Homo sapiens: one gene and its partner. The protein of the gene in region 2 binds, or shares a complex with, the protein of the main gene of each other region. Each region holds a gene or a part of one and is shown on either strand. Other genes may lie near its edges.

Evidence for each region. The genes of interacting proteins can lie anywhere in the genome.
Region 1: the proteins of DBT (region 2) and DLD are in contact, whole or in part, in a crystal structure (PDB 3RNM), measured with the Homo sapiens proteins. Residues at the interface, in NP_001909.4 of Homo sapiens: Thr174, Pro175, Ala176, Lys196, Arg199, Leu201, Lys202, Glu203, Leu206; in NP_000099.2 of Homo sapiens: Ser446, Thr447, Asp448, Arg449, Glu472, Tyr473, Gly474, Ser476, Glu478, Asp479, Arg482.

Annotation. Positions count from the first base shown.
Region 1 is NC_000007.14:107,886,695-107,894,182, forward strand, and holds the start of DLD (dihydrolipoyl dehydrogenase, mitochondrial isoform 1 precursor), read left to right. Parts: upstream 1-4,488; 5' UTR 4,489-4,556; coding exon 4,557-4,595; intron 4,596-6,505; coding exon 6,506-6,584; intron 6,585-7,488. UniProt on the Homo sapiens protein: Lipoamide dehydrogenase is a component of the glycine cleavage system as well as an E3 component of three alpha-ketoacid dehydrogenase complexes (pyruvate-, alpha-ketoglutarate-, and branched-chain amino acid-dehydrogenase complex).
Region 2 is NC_000001.11:100,246,695-100,254,499, forward strand, and holds the start of DBT (lipoamide acyltransferase component of branched-chain alpha-keto acid dehydrogenase complex, mitochondrial isoform 1 precursor), read right to left. Parts: upstream 3,141-7,805; 5' UTR 3,127-3,140; coding exon 3,076-3,126; intron 2,392-3,075; exon of another isoform or gene 2,205-2,391; intron 1-2,204. UniProt on the Homo sapiens protein: The branched-chain alpha-keto dehydrogenase complex catalyzes the overall conversion of alpha-keto acids to acyl-CoA and CO(2).

The DNA.
Region 1 (7,488 bases), on a different chromosome or scaffold from region 2:
TGAAGGTACATTTTCTTCTAAGACTTACTGAGTCTGTTACACTGGCTCAACAAGGAATTAAGATATAGTTTGATATGAGGAGGAAAGGGCTTGAGAAAGGAACTGATGTTGGTTAAATGCTTACCATGGGCTAGACCTTGTACATATATCATCTACTGAATAATTACAACAACCTGTCGTGTGGGAGCTAGCACCTTGTGTTACCTTTAAAGAAAGTGAAGATTAGAAAAGTTAAGAAATGTTTACAAGTTTCCACATTTATTTATTACATTGAGGAGCAAGAATTCATAAACCTTTTCAACTCCAAAACTCATGCTCTTGTCATTATATTATCAACTGTACCAAAAAACTCGATGAAATGTAGCCTATTGTATTTAATATTTCCTTTTTCTTAAACCAGCAAAAGAAGTGTTTTGAAAAACCATGCTTTTCAAATATTTTGATTGCCTGACTTATTGCATGTATAATGAATAACTCATCTCCATTAACCCACTTAAATTAAGGGGTTTAATGAACCCCTTAAACTGCCAGTTAGAACTTCTGATTCATTTAAGGTAACCACTGTTAAGAATTAAAATAAGTGGGCTGGGTGCGGTGGCTCACACCTGTAATCCCAGCACTTTCGGAGGCCGAGGCGGGTGGATCACGAGGTCAGGAGATGGAGACCATCCTGGCCAACATGGTGAAACCCTGTCTCTACTAAAATACAAAAATTAGCCAGGCGTGGTGGCGGGCACCTGTAATCCCAGCTACTTGGGAGGCTGAGGCAGGTGAATCACTTGAACCTGGGAGGCAGAGGTTGCAGTGAGCTGAGATCGAGCCACTGCACTCCAGCTTGGTGACAGAGCAAGGTTCCGTCAAAAAATAAAATAAAATAAAATAAGTGAGAGACAATATAAATCTTTAAAATATGCTTTGTCTTTGACCTAGCAATTCCACTTCTGGGAATTTACTGCAAGGAAATGATAAAGAATGTGTGCAAAGACTTAGTGATAAGCTAATCACGATATTGAAAAATTGGTAATGGCTTACATATCTAATAATAAAATATAGTTGAATAAATTAGGGTATGTCCCAAAATACTCAGTAGTCATTAGAAGTAGGCTAATATTGAGAGGTGACAGCGTGCTGGCAGCCCTTGCAGCCCTGGCTCCCTCTCGGCGCCCCCTCGGCCTTGGTGCCCACTCTGGCCACGCTTGAGGAGCCCTTCAGCCTGCTGCTGCACTGTGGGAGTCCCTTTCTGGGCTGGCCAAGGCTGGAGCCGGCTCCCTCTGCTTGCGGGGAGGTGTGGAGGGAGAGGCGCGGGTGGGAACTGGGGCTTCGTGCAGCGCTTGCGGGCCAGCTAGAGTTCCGGGTGGGCGTGGGCTTGGTGGGCCCTGCACTCGCAGCGGCTGGCCGGCCCCACTTGCCCCGGGCAGTGAGGGGCTTAGCACCCAGGCCAGCAGCTGCAGAGGGTGCGCCAGGTCCCCCAGCAGTGCTGGCCCACTGGCGCCCAAGGGCTGAGGAGTGCGGGCACACAGCGGGACTGGCGGGCAGCTCCGCCTGCCGCCCCAGCGCAGGATCCACTGGGTGAAGCCAGCTGGGCTCCTGAGTCTAGTGGGGACTTGGAGAACCTTTGTGTCTAGCTAAGGGATTGTGAGTGCACCAATCAGCACTCTGTGTCTTGCTCAAGGCTTGTGAACACACCAATCAGCACCCTGTGTCTAGCTCAGGGTTTGTGGATGCACCAATTGGCACTCTGTATCTAGCTAATGTGGCGGGGACTTGGGGAATCTTTATGTCTAGCTAAGGGATTGTGAATACACCAATCGGCACTCTGTATCTAGCTCAAGGTTTGTAAACACACCAATCAGCACCCTGTGTGTAGCTCAGGGTTTGTGGATGCACCAATCGGCACTCTTTATCTAGCTAATCTGGTGGGGACTTGGAGAATCTTTATGTCTAGCTAAGGGATTGTGAATGCACCAATCGGCACTCTGTGTCTAGCTCAAGGTTTGTAAATGCACCAATTAGCACTCTGTGTCTAGCTAATCTGGTGGGGAATTGGAGAATCTTTACGTCTAGCTAAGGGATTGTGAATGCACCAATCGTCACTCTGTATCTAGCTCAAGGTTTGTAAATGCACCAATCAGCACTCTGTGTCTAGCTCAGAGTTTGAAAATACACCAATCGACACTCTGTATCTAGCTAATCTAGCGGGGACTTGGAGAACTTTTGTGTCTAGCTCAGCCATTGTAAACGCACCAATCAGCACCCTGTCAAAATGGACCAATCAGCTCTCTGTAAAACAGACCAATCAGCTCTCTGTAAAATGGACCAATCAGCAGAATGTGGGTGGGGCCAGATAATAAAAGCAGGCTGCCTGAGCCAGCAGTGGCAACCCGCTTGGGTCCCGTTCCACAGCGTGGAAGCTTTGTTCTTTCACTCTTTGCAATAAATCTTGCTGCTGCTCACTCTTTGGGTCCACACTGCCTTTATGAGCTGTAACACAGCGAAGGTTTGCAGCTTCACTCCTGAAGCCAGTGAGACCACAAACCCACCAGGAGGAATGAACAACTCCAGACGCGCTGCCTTAAGAGCTGTAACGCTCACCGCAAAGGTCTGCAGCTTCACTCCTGATCTAGCGAGACCACGAACCCACCAGAAGGAAGAAAGTCCGAACACATCCAAACGTCAGAAGGAACAAACTCCGGACACGCCGCCTTTAAGAACTGTAACACTCACTGCGAGGGTCCGCAGCTTCATTCTTGAAGTCAGTGAGACCAAGAACCCACCAATTCTGGACACAATATGAATATGGAAAGTTGCTCATGAGATAGTTTTAAGTGAAAAAAATCAAGTTAGCAAAATAAGTGTGGTCCAATTTCTGGTTATATTCCTTAGCTGGAATATAAACACTGCTAGTGTGGGCTGTCCATTGTTGACATCGCTCCCTCCACCTCCCGTGTGTTCGCATTAATTTATATGCGTTGTGGCTTTTGTTCTAGCTGAGAGGAGAAGAGGTATAGTTGGTACAAGAGATGAGGAGGAATGTGGAGAAATATGGTGAGTGCAGTAAGGAATCTATTTCCTGCCTCACTTCTCATACTGGGTTGAGCCCCTAGGCTTTGTGAATGACAGCTGGAAAGGATGGAAGTGTTTCATTTTTTAAAAATAAAAATATGATATTGTAATTTTGGACAAAGGAGTAGGGAACAAAGCCCAAGAAAGTTCAGGAAAGAATTGTGAGATTTTGTGCATATGGAGCAGTAACTCCTAGACCAGATGTCAAAGACTGCCATGAAGCTGGAGAGGAGACAATTCTCCCCATCTGTGTGGTGGAGGCTGCTCAATGTCCCCCAATTTCGCTTCATCTCATCTTGCTTATTAATACAATTTCAGTTAGGCACTCAGCTGACAGGACTATGTTTCACAGATCCCCTTGCAGCTAGGTGTGGCTTTGTAATCAGATGGAATGAGGGGATATGATTGTAGAAACTGGAGCAGCCATCTTGAATGAAAGATGCAAGGCAAGCTCTGATGATGGCAGAGTCACGAGATAAAAGGAGCCTGGGACCCTGTCACAGGACAGAGCTGCCAGCAATACCGTCTCTATAACAAACACTAAATTTAATTATTCATATCTAAATCTGAACATAGGCAGTAATTTCTAACCAGTGTTTAGCCCAGCACAAGGCCTGGGTGGTAGACTTCCAATAAATGTAGAATTAAGTTTATTCACACTATATAGACTTATTGCAAGGCAAGAATGAGACCTTAGACTTTCGTGCTCAATCTTGAAGACAATGTTTTTCAACCCTTTTCAACAGATTCTCTCTCAAAACCTAAAATCTCATCCACCATCCCACTCTCTTTTTACCAGGGAGATGTGTTTCTCAACTAAAGAAATAGAAGAAAGTGTGTTCTCTACGTATTGTCAGTTAGCTAATTAGAGCAGAATGCTGGTGATGCCAAAATCTGTAGCCCCATCCCTTATATGGCATTTGAGAGGAGCGAGTATAAAGCAGTAGATAATACCAAAGGTTTTGGCCTCAGGGCCGCAGTTATCTCTCCTTTGTGAGACCTTGGGGGCACTGTTTAACCTCTCTGGGTCTCATCCAAGAAATGGAAATACTAATAATACTCCATATGGTTGTTGCAAGGATGAAATGAGATGTCTGTAGGAAGTGCCGAGGAATGCCTAGCACAACCAAGAGCTTGTTGAACTTGTCACGCTTTACTGTCGATAATGTGCATTAAGCAAACGCTAGTTTTATTTGTTTATTTCATCTTCTAAGTATAAGAATACATTGTAGCTCGACATTTTGGCACCAGCCCCTAAAGCATTCCCACCACCACCCCCGCTGCGACAAAGCCCTGCGCTCCTTACGACAGCGTACGACGCCGAGCCTGACAGGAACGCCTCGTGCGGTAGAACCGCGCGGGCCAATCGCGCTGCTCCCGGGTGATGACGTAGGCTGCGCCTGTGCATGCGCAGGGAGGGGAGACCTTGGCGGAGCGGCGGAGGCGCCCAGCGGAGGTGAAAGTATTGGCGGAAAGGAAAATACAGCGGAAAAATGCAGAGCTGGAGTCGTGTGTACTGCTCCTTGGCCAAGGTGAGGGCCGAGTAGGTGAGGTCGTGTTGAGCCAGAGGCACGGAAGGTCCCGCTCAGTGGGTCCGGTACGCGGCTTAACCGTGTTGGGCTGGCGGAGGCGGGCGCCTGGGCCGCACCACCCCTGGCCCCGCCTCTGCACTGGCTCAGCCCGGCCCTGGGCTCCGAGGTGGCCGCTCATCCTGCAGCAGGCGAGGGACGGGGCTGGGCCCAGGCTGTGGCGAGTCCTTTCGGGTTGTGTGACGGCCGGCGGTCACACATGCCACACCCCCAAGCCTGGGCCGAGGGCCATCCCGGTCACACATAGGCCTCTACCTTGGAGGAAGTGTAAGCCACCCATGTCCCGTATAGTCTGGCTTTTTATACCATTTGCCTTTTTCTCATCCTAATTCTGATCCCTGAGTGGCCTAAGTTTATGCAGTGGGCAGGTAACCCTGGGGTCACTTCTTGAATGGTTTAGATCCAGTCAGCTCCAACAGATAGCCCTCGGAATTCCCCTAAGGTCTTGTCAGTGTTGGCAGCTTTCAACTGGTGTTCATTGCCATCTCTCACGACTTCCTGGAGGCTTAAATCTTTAATTGCAGCAGGTTATCAGAACAACTCTCCTTTTTAATCTGCTTACCAGATACAGCCAAATTGTGTGTATGTGGCACCGTGGCTGGGTACTATGTTAGTGGAGACCTTAAAAATAATATAGCGATCAAACCCTTTTGTTTCAGAGATGAGGAACCTGAGTTCTCAAAAGTTAATGTAACATTCTGCAAGTCATGCTTTTAGGGAGCGGCGGAGGTGGGACTGAAACTCAGGATTGTCAATCTGCTGCTTTTTGGGTTTGCTGTCCTGACCTCAAATGTTAAGAGTTGCCTTGGAATAGGAAACATCAGTGTAGGTTTTGTCACTGCCGCCCATTTTCCTGCTGTGAGCAGGGGTTATTTGCTTGCTTGCTTTCTGCCTCATTGCCCTTAGGAAATGGTAGCCGTCCACATATAGAGATTAGGGAGATTATGATGCAATTTGTCAAACTGTAGTAGCACCAGAACGTAAGTACATTACTTGGTGCATTTTCCTAAGTTACCTTGTCTAATTTGCTATTCCTAGTTGATGTCTCAGGAACATCTTCATAGATTGTTCTAAGTAAATACGGACTGTATATACACGCTAGCTTAGAGTTAGGAAACAAAAATTACAGGTAAAAAGATTATCATGTATAGATTATTCAAGTATTTAAGTTAGAACTTTCAGAGCTTTATTTATTTATTTATTTATTTATTTATTTTGAGACGGAGTCTCACTCTGACATCCAGGCTAGAGTGCAATGGCACTATCTCAGCTGACTGCAACTTCCGCCTCCCGGGTTCAAGTGATTCTCCTGCCTTGGCCTCCCGAGTAGCTGGGATTACAGGCACCCACCACTACACCCGGCTAATTTTCTTGTATTTTTAGTAGAGTCGGGGCTTCACTATGTTGGCCAGGCTGGTCTCGAACTCCTGACCTCAGGTGATCCGCCCACCTCAGCCTCCCAAAGTGTTGGCATTACAGGCGTGAGCCACCACGGCCGGCTCAGAGCTTTATGACATTAAAATGATCCCTGGCACTAATAATTAGCCATGTTTTCTGAAAATTGAATAAAAATACCATTGAATACGTTTTTAAAATTAAGTTAAATATGAGATGATTTGTTGACTATTGATAATAAAAAGATGGGTGTGGCAAGCTGAGGCTGAAAAATTTAAATGATTAGTTATTGTCAAAGAGGGGATATTGATCTGTAGCTTCTGTGTGGCAATGGAAGAAGATACACTAATAATCCTCGCTTGATACGTTTGCCCAAAATTGTTCTGTTATCATCAACCTTCAGTAGTTCTATGTTTTGAATTCATATCTTACATAATAGGGACATTTTCTTTTTCTAGAGAGGCCATTTCAATCGAATATCTCATGGCCTACAGGGACTTTCTGCAGTGCCTCTGAGAACTTACGCAGATCAGCCGAGTAAGTACTTAAGTAAAACATTTTTTTCATCACATTAGCTGACAGTTCCTTTCTATTTCAATGTAAAAGCAAGTGAATATTGGAATAACTTATGTTAAGTGTCTTATAGTTCATTTGTTCATGTATTTATTCGTTTGAATGTATATTGAGCTAGTGTGTTCCAGGCGGTGAACAAGGTAAAAAAACCCTGCTCTTATGAAACTTGTAATTTGGTGATAAAAGACAAACAATATATAAGTAATGGATAAATATTTTGGGAAGTAACTGAAAATTAAAGCAGGTAATAGGGAGGAAGAGAGATAATTTTAGATACAGTGTCAGGAAAGGCCTTTCTGAGGAGATGATGTCTGGGCAGGGTCCTGAGTGAAGTGGGGGAGTGAGGTTACTTCAGGCAGAGGGAAACAACACTGAGAAAGGCCTGAGGTGGGACTTAGCTTGTGAAGTTTAAGGAGTAATAAGAAGGCTGGTATGACTGGAGCAGAAACCCATGCAATGTAAAGTCGGAGAGGTAGGCAGGAGACAGATCATGGAGTGCCTTGTAAGGCAGGTCTAGTAGTTTGGATTATACTCCAAGTATGATGGGAAACAAAGGTTTTGAGCAGGGCAGCAATTTCATATGTTTACATTTAAAAAGTTAATTTTGTCCGTTGAGTAAGGTTGTATTGGTTATTTTAACACTGTTTAGAATGATGAGATGACTTTCTTGACATCCTGAATGAAAGTCTTCATGGGTTTATCAAAAGCATGTTTTAAAGATTAGCAGGATCTAAAAGGAAGCTATGGGTCATGGAATTTTCTCCTGTGTACTTTTTTTATATTTTTGAAGTTCCCATAAAGGATATGCATTTTATTTTTTTAAGTATTTAAAACAGAAAGTTAATAGGATTATATTGAAGTATTTTGA
Region 2 (7,805 bases):
CACACCTACAATGTGCCAGGCACTTGGGATTATACAGAGAACAAAACAGATGCAATTTCTTCCCTTATAGAATGCACAGTACAGTGAAAGGTAAAGACAAGTAAACCGGTGATTATAACACGTGCTATAATGAAGGAAATAGAGTGTGTTAAGGGAACCTAGCTGGAGAAAGTTATGTTGAAGTAAGACCTGACGGATGAGTAGGTGTAACCCCGGGGATGAGGTATGTTGCAGATAAGGCCACAGTGGAGTAAGGCAAGAGTCTTTAAAGCAGAGGAAATACATGTGCAAAGGTCTGGAGTTGAGACAGAAAGCACAGTGTGTGTGCAAATAACTCAAGTTGTTCAACAGACTTCTAGTGTAGTTTAGTGTGGAATAAGGGTGGGGAAGTGTCAGAGTTGGGGTTGGGATGGGTAGGTTTTGGTAAGGAATGAGATCTAAGAGACTGGAAAGGTCCAGATCATAAATTGCCTCATAGTCATTTGAATTTTGGACATTTTGCTGAAGGCAGTTTTAAACAAGAAAATGATATTATCAAATGTCTCTTACTTTATAAGATCACTCTGGCTACACTATGGAGAATGGGTTGGAAAAACTACAAGACCACTGGAGGCATATAATCCAGTTAAGAAGGGCCAAGACACCTCCAGTTGAGGGCAGGGTGGAAAAATCATGACTAGATTTCTTCAGAGAGAATTACAGGCTCAAATCAAGAGAAACTGGGCCAGGGGCAGTGGCTTACGCCTGTAATCCCAGCACTTTGGGAGGCCAAGGCAGGAGGATCACCTGAGGTCAGGAATTCAAGACCAGCCTGGCCAACATGGCAAAACCCCGTCTCTACTAAAAATACAAAAATTAGCCAGGCATGGTGGTTCGCGCCTGTAGTGCCAGCTACTTGGGAGGCTGAGGCAGGAAAATCACTTGAACCCAGGAGGTGGAGGTTGCAGTAAGCCGAGATTGCACCACTGCACTCCAGCCTGGGCAACAGATCAAGACTCTTCTCAAAAAAAAAAAAAAAAAAAATTAAGAGAAACTGGTTTGAGGGTTCAGTTCTAGAGGCTGGAGAGTCTGACCTGCTTTGAAGCTTTACGGCAGACACTGTGAGAAGACTAAAGACAAGCTTTTCTGCTGGGCATGGTGGCTCATCCTGTAATCCCAGCACTTTGGGAGGCCAAGGCAGGCGGATCACTTGAGGTCAGGAGTTTGAGACCAGCCTGGCCATCATGGTGAAACCTCGTCTCTACTAAAAATACAAAAATTAGCTGGGCATGGTGGCGTGTGCCTGTAGTCCCAGATATTTGGGAGGCTGAGGCAAAAGAATCGCTTGAAACTGGGAGGCAGGGGTTGCAGTGAGCCAAGATCGCACCACTGTACTCCAGCCTGGGTGACAGAGAGAGACTCCATTTCAAAAAAAAAAAAAAAAAAGACAAGTTTTTCTAAGCTCCCTTGTGCTAGCCGGGGCCATGTAACACAGTTCTGGCCAGTGAGACTGGAACCTCCTCCTCTTCCACCTTCCTGCCTTCAACATAAAAGAAGAAGTCGTAGCAGCCCTCTTGTATACAGTAGGAAAAGGACAAATGAACTACTAGGGAAATGACGACATTGATAATCATAAGCCACTTAATGTGAGCTGACATCTAATTGGGGATGCTCTGTATGCATGGATACTTAATTTCCTATTTATTGGTTGGGTTTTTAATTGCAGCTGGAAAACATCACGTACATATGAAACTGGAGATTTCCAGGACAGTAGGATATATGGGTTTGGAGTAGACCTGGTTGGAAGACTGGGGAACTTTAGGACTCATCAGCATAGATGGTAACTAAAGCCAAAGAGTGGATGGGATAACCCAGAAAGTGGGAAAAGTGCAGAGGGCCAAAGTCAGAGCCCTTTAGAAAAAGCAATATTTAAAAGGCGGGAAGGGAAACAGGATATTGGGATGAAGTGGCCAAAGATGAAGAAAGAATAATATTGGGAAACTGGTGTCACAGAAAACAAGAATGGAAAGCTCTAGAAAGAAGAGAGACCAATATGTGTTAAGTGTTGCTGAGAAGAGCTCTCTTCTCCTGGTTATCTCTTACTTATCCTTCTTACATCTCAAGTCATACAGTATCCTCTGGGAACTCCTCTGACCCCCAAGTCCACCATAGGTGTCCACTCCTGTGTGTTCCTGTAGTTCTAGGCACTTGTCCCATCACAGTACCTCTCATGCTGGGTTGTAATTTCTATCTGTCTCCCTCTCCTTTGTCCTCCACCACAAGGTTGTAATCTCTTGAGAAGGAAGATATGATGTCTATTTCATATTTGTATCTCCAGTGCCTAACACAGCACTGGTACATAGCAGGCTCTTGAAAGTTTTTGTAAGATCGGGGTCACCAAGGCAGGAGCATCTAGGGAAAGGGAGAAGAGGCAGGAAGAAGAAACACTAAGCAAATAGGGGTAACAAGTATCATTACCGGTATGTGTCAGTGCTTGGTGCTAAGACTGGGAGAAAGAGAAGGAAGTGCAGGGGAGATGGTGATGGGTCACAGCCTTGGTGACAAAAGGGTAGGAATGATATGTGGTGCGGACATAGAAGTACAAGGCAAAAGAGTGACGCCGAGCTGCTCAGTTCTTCGGAAGCAGGGACCCCTGCTGATATTCTATAACTTGAACGGCCTCTTCCTCTACACACTGTAGATTCCTTGAGGGTAGGGGTCGTGTTACCAGTGTTTGGCATACTGTGGGTACGCAATAAATGCTAAACGAATATATCTCTGGATCCACAGCGCCTATCACAATGCCTGGGCACCTGGAAGGCGCTCAATAAAACGCTAGCTGGGCCTCGGGGTACAGATGGAGCAGGACGGCTGAGTCGCTGCAGAAGCGCTTCCAGGTAAGGGGAGGGAGTGGGTTTCCACTCCAGACTGGTCGACTCGCTCCGTTCTCTGCCCTTTATTTTGCATGCATCCCTTCACCTCTCCATCACGCGTGCCCTGGACGCCTGGCACCGGAGGAGAAAGTAAAACACCACTCCTGGATGACTCCGGACAAATCACTCCTTCCCGGCCTCAGATCTGCCCAAACGTGCTTACCAGCTTCCCCGCATTCCTGCTCCAGGTTCTCAGCATACGGACTGCAGCCATCTTACCCCGGAAATGACAACAGTGCCGCAAACTGGAGAGACTCTCCTCGGCGCGGCCTATCAGGAGATGGGAAACGCGCCTCCCCCTGGGCGACCAATAGGGAGGGAAGAAACGAGCCTCCCACCCAACAGCCAACCAAGGAGTAGGGCGGAGCCTGAGCTAAACCCTAGGATCTGGGACCCAGCGGGGAGTGAAAAGAGCCTGGGGGACGGAGGCGGGGCAGAGGGCAGCCCAAATTTAACACTGCTGTGTAAATACAGATGCACCAAAGATAATCTTTTTAGTGTATGTGATGGGGAAAATAGAGAGTGTTAAGGAAACACAAAGAAAGGTACTTACCTCAAGAAAGTTATGTTGCAGTAGGACCTGAGCGATGAGTTGGAAAACATTTCCCCGTCTTCATCTTGTAGTGTAGCCGCCCCAAATACAGAAAATAGAATATTTCTATACGTTGTAGCAAGGCTCTGGACAACTAGTTGTTTCACAAGTCCATACAGCAGTACTTCCCAATGACTGCCTTTTTTACTCCCATTTATGTTTTTGATTACCAAAATTGGCTAATCAATTTTTTTCATGAAAGATGAACATTACCTAATGTCTAAAATAAACATGTTATCATCTTTCTTTTTACAGACTGCTATCAGATGCAGCTAACTAGCATATGCAATACATGTCACAGACACATGATCTTGATTTAGTTGTCTCTTAAAGAAATGTCAAATTCAGGTCAAGTGGAACTGGTAAAGAACAGATCAGAGCTTTCTTTTAAAAGGCAATCTTCCTCAGAGCAACTAGGAAACCAATTCCTGGAAATGTCCAGGATGACATTAGTCTGTTATTGCTTCTTACGTGGGAATGAAAATCTGCACAGATGTCTAAGGAATTACAGAGAAAAAAAACTGGAACAAATACATTTTAAATGCTCAACATTGAAGATTAGTGGTTATGAAACAAAATCTCAGGTATTTCACAACTTCATTGTTTAATATGACCCAAACACTTTTCCCCCTCATTTGCCATTTTATGTATTACACATCTACACACAAAAAATCAATGCAAACAATAAATCTTATTATCTTTTTTGTTTGTTTGTTTGTTTGGTAGAGATAGGGTCTCTTGGGCCAGGCGTGGTGGCTCCTGCCCATAATTCCAGCACTTTGGGAGGCTGAGGCAGGCAAATGGCTTGAGCTCAGAAGTTCAAGATGGGATCTCTCTATGTTGCCCAGGCTGGTCTCAAAGTCCTGGTCTCAAACTGCGATCTTCCCATTTCAGCCTCCCAAAGTCCTAGGATTACAGGCATGAGCCACTGGGTCCGGCCTAAATAGCTATCTTTCTCAGAAAATCTAGAGTAGTCAAAAGAATTTCAAGTTTTTACATTTCCTTAAAAATGTTTATAGACATTATTAATATATTTGATAATCCCACAAGCATGTGTTTGTATAAAAAGCAGTGGCAGTTGTACCTTTGAAGTGAATCATCTCCCTTCCAAGCTGCTGCTATACAACTTTCTTTGTCCTAATTTCGTTTTTAACTGTACCTGCTCCTCAGAAGATAACTAGTTTATTTTCCTTTACCGTCTTCTTATGTCAATGGATTCTTGCTTCTATATTCAGTATAATATGTGTCCTTATCTTTCATTCCAGCATCTGGAAAGAAATACACCATCTATTCCCTAGTTAATTCTTTTATTCGAGTTTGAAAGAAACAAAGACCCCATTTCTTCTCTTTTTTTAGATTTAAAAATGGCCAGTTATGACCCACCAATTCCACTCCTGGATAGCTACATAAGAGAAATGACAACAGTGTTCACACAAAGACTTGAATAGGAATAATCATAACAGCATAACAGCCAAAATCTAGAAACAGCCCAGATGTCCATTAACAGGTGAATAAACAAAATGTGGTACATCCATATTCTGAAATATTATTCATCCTTAAAAATGACTGAATTAGCGATAATTGCTATGACATGGATGAATGTCAAAAAAATATTATGCTAAGTAAAAGAATACAAGCACAAAAGATCACATATTACATTATTCCATTTAAATTAAATGTCCAGAAAATGTTGATTTATAGAGATGAAAAACAGATTAGTTTTAGTTATATTAGTTATATAATAAGATTATATTAGTATTATTAATTAATAAGGTTAGCATTAGAAAACAAATTCGCCTGGGGCTAGAGGTGGAAGGGGCAGTGATTGCAGAGGCAAGAGAGATTTTTTTTGTGGTGATGAAAATTTTCTGTTGCCACTTTGTGGCAATGATTGCATAATTCTGTACATTTACTAAAAATCTTTGAATTATACACTTAAGACAGGTGAATTTTATGGTATGTAAAGTACACCATAATAAAGCTGTTAAAACTGTGTTATATGAGACAATAATGAACATATGAATAAAAACAAATACATAAGTCTGGACGTGGTGGCTCATGCCTGTAATCCCAGCACATTGGGAGGCGAAGGCGGGTAGATCACGAGGTCAGCAGTTCGAGACCAGCCTGGCCAACATAGTGAAACCCCATCTCTACTAAAAATACAAAAATTAGCCAGGCATGGTGGCATGCGCCTGTAGTCCCAGATACTCGGGAGGCTGAGGCAGGAGAATTGCTTAAATCTGGGAGGCGAAGGTTGTGGTGAGCCAAGATTGTGCCATTGCACTCCAGCCTGGGCAATAGAGCAAGATTCCATCTCAAAACAATACAAAACAAATACATATGTCACATGATAATATAACAAAAACCCTTGAACCTATCACTCAACTTTAAGAAATAGAACCTATGGAAAAACACATTATGTAGGTTGTCTAAAAATAAAATACATTTTAAACTAAAAAAAAAAGAAATAGAATCTTTCCCGTTAGTGAAGATCACTGTCTGCTCCTTCCTTTACCTCTCCCCTTCATAAGCGTTATCTTGAATTGTGTTTTTCATTCCTTTGTTTATTTTAGAATTGACCACATATACATATATGGATGGATGCCTAGTAACATATTATTTACTTTTGCTTGTTTTTGAGTCTCATAAAAATGGTATTAAACTGTATGTATCTTTCTGCAACTAGTTTTTCTGACATGATTTATTTATCCATTCTCTACTGAGTGGATATTTGTGCTATTTCTAGTTATTTGCTATTACCGTCAGTGCTGTTATGAACATTCTTGATCATTTCTCCTGGTGCATGTTCTAGGGTTTCTTTAGCACAGCGCTTCTCAGACATTAATGAGCATTCATAGCAACCGGGGATCTTGTTAACAAGCAGATTCTAATTCAGTAAATGTGGGTAAACCTGCCATTCTGCATTTCTAACAAGCTCCAGGTGATACAAATGCTATTGGTTAGCCAACTACACTTTGATTAGTAGGCTTAGGATAAATACCTAAAAGTTGAATTGTTGAAACAGGGGTTATGTTTATCTTCAAGTTTACTCTAGATAATACGAGATTGTTTTCCAATGTGATTGTACAAACTACATGCCTAGCTGCTGTATGTTTATTGTTTCTCATTTGATATTGTCAGATTTAAAATTTTCCCCCAATTTAGTAATTATAAAATGATGTTATAATCTTAATTTGAATTTCCCTGATTATTAATAAAGTTGAGCATGTTTCTACATGTTTATTAGCCATTCTTAGAGTGCTTGCTCAATTGTTGATATTTCTAAGATGGTTGTCTATGTTACTTTCTATAAATGTGGGACAAAGTAAGATGAAACAATTTATCCTTAAGAAAATGACTGTGGGACAGGTACGGCGGCTCTGTAATCCCAGCACTTTGGAAGGCCAAGGCGGGAGGATCGCGTGAGCTCAGGAGTTTGTGACCAGCTTGGGCAACATGGCAAAACCCCATCTCTACAAAAAATTAGCTGGGGGTAGTGGCGTGTGCCTGTAGTCCTACAGACTGAGGCGAGAGGATCACTTGAGCTCTGGAGCTCGAGGCTGCAGTAAGTTGTGATTGCATCACTGCACTCCAGCCTAGACAACAGGGCAAGACCCTGCCTAAAAGAAAAAAAAAATAGAACATGACTGTGGCTTCGTTAAATTGACACTCTGCTCTATTCAATGGAATTCTCAGAAAGAGTGACGTTTACCAAAATGCAAGATGCTAATTAATGAAGGTCTTAAATTACTTGTTTGGCTCCTTGGTGTGCCTGACTGGTGTAGAAAAATCTGAGGATGACCTTCTGAATTCTGCTCTGAATTCTAAGTGGTCAGGAGATAAATGTAGCCTAGAGTCAGCCCCTGCATTGACCATTACCCCAAAATATACCAACACATGCTTGCCAGAGCTACTGTAGTTTAACTATTTATGAATTTTGAGGACTTTTAATAGCCTAAGTATTTAAATATCATTACTTATTTAGAAACTGTTCCAATATATGCTTAGTCAACTATGTTAATATAGAGTTGTATGTATTGTATATAATACAGATATATATTTTGTTTAATATGGATAGTTTGTAGTGATTCATTAAGAGTTTGAATTATATATAGATCTGCCTCTTTTTTGCCTATCATGGGCAAGTTTCAATTTTCTTGTGTACAAGATGAGATTGACATTGATAATACCTTCCCTACCATCTTCAATATACCTTCAGGGATATTTTGAAGATCAAAGGAATTCTAGTATCTTGATACTACTTTATATGATGAAAGAGTCTATATAAATGTAGTATT